2 separate regions of the Homo sapiens genome follow, and region 2 is linked to region 1. The links come from fine-mapping of genetic effects on gene expression. Tissue or cell type: whole blood. Region 1 holds a variant in brackets; the other region holds the start of a gene. All regions are shown on one strand. Distances are from middle to middle.

The links. PIP is the estimated chance that this variant, and not a neighbour inherited with it, causes the effect.
Region 2: it holds the start of PRRG4, and the variant in region 1 is fine-mapped to the expression of PRRG4 in whole blood (INTERVAL, PIP above 0.99).

What each region holds. Positions count from the first base shown.
Region 1 is chr11:32,622,106-32,624,865 of GRCh38, reverse strand. All of the region lies in intron 14 of CCDC73 (coiled-coil domain containing 73), which reads left to right. Among named protein-coding and RNA genes, the nearest start is that of EIF3M, 40 kb to the right of the region's middle. The variant A/G (reference allele first, on the strand shown) is at 1,105.
Region 2 is chr11:32,828,298-32,830,906 of GRCh38, reverse strand. PRRG4 (proline rich and Gla domain 4) reads right to left here and starts at 980. Exons shown (of 6, transcript NM_024081.6): 1 at 734-980; 2 at 275-399. The coding sequence starts at 377. It also overlaps a transcript of CCDC73 not described here. RefSeq lists enhancers at 284-343, 354-403 and a silencer at 824-1,203.

The sequences.
Region 1 (2,760 bases):
CTCCTCCTTTTTAATGGCTGCATAGTATTCCATGGTATATATGTGCCACATTTTCTTAATCCAGTCTGTCATCTGTCATTGATGGACATCTGGGTTTGTTCCAAGTCTTTGCTATTGTGAATAGTGCCACAACAAACATACGTGTGCACGTATCTTTATAGTAGCATGATTTATAATCCTTTGGGTATATACCTAGTAATGGAATTGCTGGGTCAAATGGTATTTCTAGTTCTAGATCCTTGAGGAATGGTAATTCTATATTTAACTTTTTGAGGAACTGCTAAAAAATTTTACTAAATAGTGGATATCTTTCTAAGTCCGTAAAAATAGATCTACATCACAATTTCCATTGTGTGACTAGGACGTGCCATAATTAATCTGTCCACTTCCCTATTGGGCATCCTTGTACAAATATCTTTGTGTATGTTTGTGACTATTTCTTTAGGATAAACTTCAAGAAATGGTATTGCTGGGTCAAAGAGCTTTCTCACTTATAATTTATTTATTTATTTATTTTTTTATTTTTTATTTGGAGATGGAGTCTTGCTCTCAGGCTGGAGTGTAACAGCATCATCTCGGCTTACTGCAACCTCCGCCTCCTGGGTTCAAGCAATTCTCCTGCCTCAGCCTCCCGGGTAGCTGGGACTACAGGCATGTGCCACCACACCTGGTTAATTTTTTTTTTTTTTGTATTTTAGTAGATATGGGGTTTCACCTTATTAGACAGGATGGTCTCGATCTCCTGACCTTGTGATCTGCCCACAGCCTCCCAAAATGCTGGGATTACAGACTTGAGCCACTGCGCCCGGCCCTCTCACTTATAATTTTTGACACATATTGTCAGATTGCTTTCCGGAAATGTTGTACCAGTTTATAGTCCTACCAGCCATGTATGAGTACCTGTCTTCTCTAGCCTTCTTAATACTTTGTCAGCTGTACTTTGCATTTTTGTTTTATTAAACATATTTTATATGTTTATCAGTTATATTCCTTTTGTTTTAGTTTATATATTCCCATTTGCAATTAAACATGCTTAAGCCCCTCCCATTTTAAAAAGTAAACAAATAACAAAAAAACTTTTTGATCTCACACCCATTTCCAAAT[A/G]CCCTAAGTAAAGTCTTCTTTGTAGAGCCAAGTTTCTTGAAAGATTGGTTTAAACTCATACTTTTTGCTTTCTTACTTCCCATTCATCCTTCAACATAGGGCAATCTGGGCTGGGCATGGTGGCTCATGCATGTAATTCCAGCACTTTTGGGGGCCAAGGCAGGTGAATTGCTTGAGTGCAGGAGTTCAAGACCTGTCTGGAGAACATAGTGAGACCCTTGTCTCTACAAAATTTTTTTAAAAATTAGCGGGGCATGGCGGTGCACACTGGTGGTCCCAGCTACTAGGGAGGTAAGAGGAGCACTTGAACCTGGGAAGCTGAGACTACCATGAGCCATGATCACACCAATGCACTCCAGTCTGGAGGACTGAGGGAGACCCTGTCACAAAACAAATAAACAAACAAAAACATAGGGCAGTCTGGCTTTGCCCCTCTGCTCCATAAAATGGATATTATGGCCAGGCATAGTGGCTCACGCCTGTAATCTCAGCACTTTGAAAGCTCGAGGCAGGTGGATCACAAGGTCAGGAGTTCAAGAGCAGCCTGGCCAACATGGTGAAACCCTGTCTCTACTAAAAATACAAAAATCAGCCACATGTGGGGGCATGCCTGTAATCCCAGCTACTCAGGAGGCTGAGGCAGGAGAATCACTTGAAACCGGAAGGCAGAGGTTACAATGAGCTGAGATCACACCACTGCACTCCAGCCTGGGTGAAAGAGCGAAACTCCATCTCAAAAAATAAAAATAAATTAAAAAATAAAATAAAATAAAATAAAATGGACATTACATCCATTCCCTTTGGATATTACACTTTTCAGTCCCTTTGAAGCATTTGATACTATTTCTTGCTTGAGTTATCTTTTCCTTTTCTTCTATTATATTTCGTTCATCTGATTTTTTTTCTTTACCTCTCAGGCCACTTTTTTTATGGTGGTAAGAATAATAACTATTATAATAGTTATACCATTAATTGAGCACCTATGCACTGTGTGTATTATATATATAATTTAATCTTTACACCATTCCCCCCCACCCCGCCCAAGTGAGCTGTGTCCTAGAGGTTCATTCTTTCTTTTTTTTTTTTTTCAATTTTATTTAAGTTCCATGATACATGTGGAGAATGTGCAGGTTTGTTACATAGTTATACGTGTGCCATGGTGGTTTGCTGCACCTATCAACACCTAGGTTTTAAGCCCCGCATGCATTAGCTATTTGTCCTGATGCTCTCCCTCCCCTTGCTGCCCCCCACCCGGACAGGCCCCAGTGTGTGTTGTTCCCCTTCCTGTGTCCATGTGTTCTCATTGTTCAACTCGCACTTATGAATAAGAACATGCGGTATTTGGTTTTCTGTTCCTGTGTTAGTTTGCTGAGGATGATGGCTTCTAGTTTCATCTATGTCCTTATAAAGGACATGATCTCATTCCTTTTTATGGCTGCATTGTATTACATGGTGTATATCCACCACATTTTCTTTATCCGGTCTATCATTGATGGACATTTGGACTGGTTCCGTGTCTTTGCTATTGCGAATAGTGCTGCAATAAACGTATGTGTGCATGTATCTTTATAACAGAATAACATATTCCTTTGTGTATATACCCAGTAATGGAATTGCTGAGTCAAATGGTATTTCTGGTTCTAGATCCTTGAGGAA
Region 2 (2,609 bases), 210 kb before region 1:
TGATTTTCAGAAGCTGAAATAGGTTTTCCATTCAATTAACCACAAACTAGGTCTTACGTATATACTTATTAAAGGAGACTCACAGACATCAAATTCTATAAATTGCAGTTAAAGAACATAAAAAAACACAACCTTGCCAAATATGCCACAAATTAAACTAAAGGATATTTTAGTGTTTCTATGATTGCTGGGGGTATGTAATTTCAAATACTGCACTTTCTCACTGAGATCTGTGCTATGCGGCTCTGGGTTCCAGGGACGTTTTAGTGCTTACCTTCTTCTCCCGCATGCTTAGAAGCCTTTGGACCTCTTGCGCAATGAGGAAACCCCAGGGTAACTGTGGGCAGTTGGCTGAGTAGAACCAGAAGCGTAAACATAGTCTGGCAACTGTCAAACAAACTAAAACAAACAAAAAAAAATATTAAAAAAAAAAGGCCCCTAGCTCAGCACTTTGAGTTTCTGTCGAACTGAATCACCAACCTGTTGTACTCAAAGCCTAGGCGCAAGAGCGCCCGGCGCGCGGTTTCGGTCGCCGGAACCCGACGCGCGCCCAGGAAGCAGCCCCTGAGAGCGCCTGGGACAAACGCCGTGCCCAGTGACCCTGCCGAGGGCTGATCGGGCACCTGTCGCCGCGGGCAACCCTCGCTATGTGTTCGAATCCAACCCAGTCCGCCGAGGTGGCCCCTTCCAGGTAACCCCCTCCCCGCCGAGGTCCTGCCGCCAGGCCTCGTACCTGTGTCCCCCCGCACATGTTCCAGCAGCCCCCGGGCCAGAGGCTCTTCTTGGGGCGGTTCCTTCGGCCGCCAGGCCCTCGGTCTCCGGCGCCCTCAAACCTCGGCGACGCTCCGGGCCTCGCTCTCCGCAGGGTCTGGATGGCCCCCGCGCGCAAACCTGGGAAGGGCCTGGGGTTCGCAGAGGGGCGCCCGGGGAACACGCGCGGGGTGAGGTCCTGCCTCGGTCCGGGGAGGCGGCCGACGGAGGACGGGAGGAGGCGGCTACCTGGGGACACCTGGCCGCGCCCCACCTCCCGGGGGCCGGGCCTACCTGCGGCGAGCGGGCGGGCAGTGGGCCGGCGTCTCCCGGGAGCCCGCGCTGCGCTCTCAGCCGCCCCAGCTTCTGCCCCATCCCCGGGCGGGCCAGCCGCCTGCCGCCAGTTCTGGCCCCGCCTTGGCGGCGCGGGTGGCTGCTTTTCGATTTGTGTCTGCACTCGGCGTTCTCAATGATCCTAATTCAGGAAGCATTTCGGTTCTCAGTCTTAAGCAGAGCGCCCTCGGCGCGTCCAGGGCTTTTCGCTTTGGGTCCCACTGGGCCAGGAGTCCTGTGGTTACCTTAGGTCAACTGTTCTCAAAAGGGTGGTCCGGGGACGAGGACAAGATATTCATCAGACAAAATACCCTTTATTCGTGATAAGAAATGGAAATGACCTTACAAGTAATTGATTACATTGGTTCTCCAATGGTGGTCCGCCAGGTCTGGGATGTCTCCAAGATCTTTTCCAGGGGTCTCTGAGGGCAAAACTATTTCCATTATAGTAACAATAAATGATTTGCCATTTTCACTTTCATTCTCTCAAGAGTGTACAGTGGAAATTTCCAGGGGCTATTTGAAGTGTAATAACGTCATCATTCTGTCTCCTAATAGAATACCTGAGTGAGCGTGCTTGTATTTTCTGGTATTTTCCATAGTAGTATGTTTACATTATCAGTATGTACATTTTATAGAGATTTATGTAGATTTATAGAGATTAATAAAATTTGTTCTCAGTACTTGTGAACTTAATTTTTTTTCTTTCCTTTTTTCTTTTTCAGAGTAGGGGGTCTCACTTTGTTGCCCAGGAACTCCTGGGCTCAAGAGATCCTCCTGTCTCATCCTCCAGAGTAGCTGGGACTACAGGTGTCCACCAACTCTCTTGGCTACTGCTTTTGTACTTTGATTAGTTCTATTTGTTCATATCTACTAGGATAGCTATAACCTCATTTTTCTGAAGTAATTATCTTGAAATCTTGATCTTTTCCTTGAGTCTATGCATAAACATAACAAAAAGTAAGCTTTGTTGTCTTGATTTCAAATAATATTTTGAAAATTTCTCAGTTTTAATGTTAGATAATAAATATCATTAGATAAAATTCACATAAGTGAAAGCTCTTTGGGGTCCTTGATAATGTAAAAGAGCGTAAAAAGGTCTTGATTAAAGACTTCAAAAACTGCTGCATCAAGTAATGAAGGCAGCAGGTGGACAGAGTACCTATGCCAGGTGATGGTCACATCCTTCTTTATCCAAAGAACGTGCTTAACAGTTCTTTGAAACACTATTTATGCTTTGGTCGAAGTGGTCTGGCACTTGCTGGGGACCAAGGGAAACATTTTTTCCCCCTTCATTTTTTTTTTTTTTTTCTTGAGACAGAGTCTTGCTCTGTCACCCAGGCTGGAGTACAGTGGCACAATCTTGGCTTACTGTAACCTTCGCCTCCTGGGTTCAAGCGATTCTCCTGCCTCAGCCTTCCGAGTAGCTGGGATTACAGGCATCCACCACCACGCCCGGCTAATTTTTTGTACATTTAGGAGAGAGGGGTTTTCACCATGTTGGCCAGGTTGTTCTCAAACTCCTG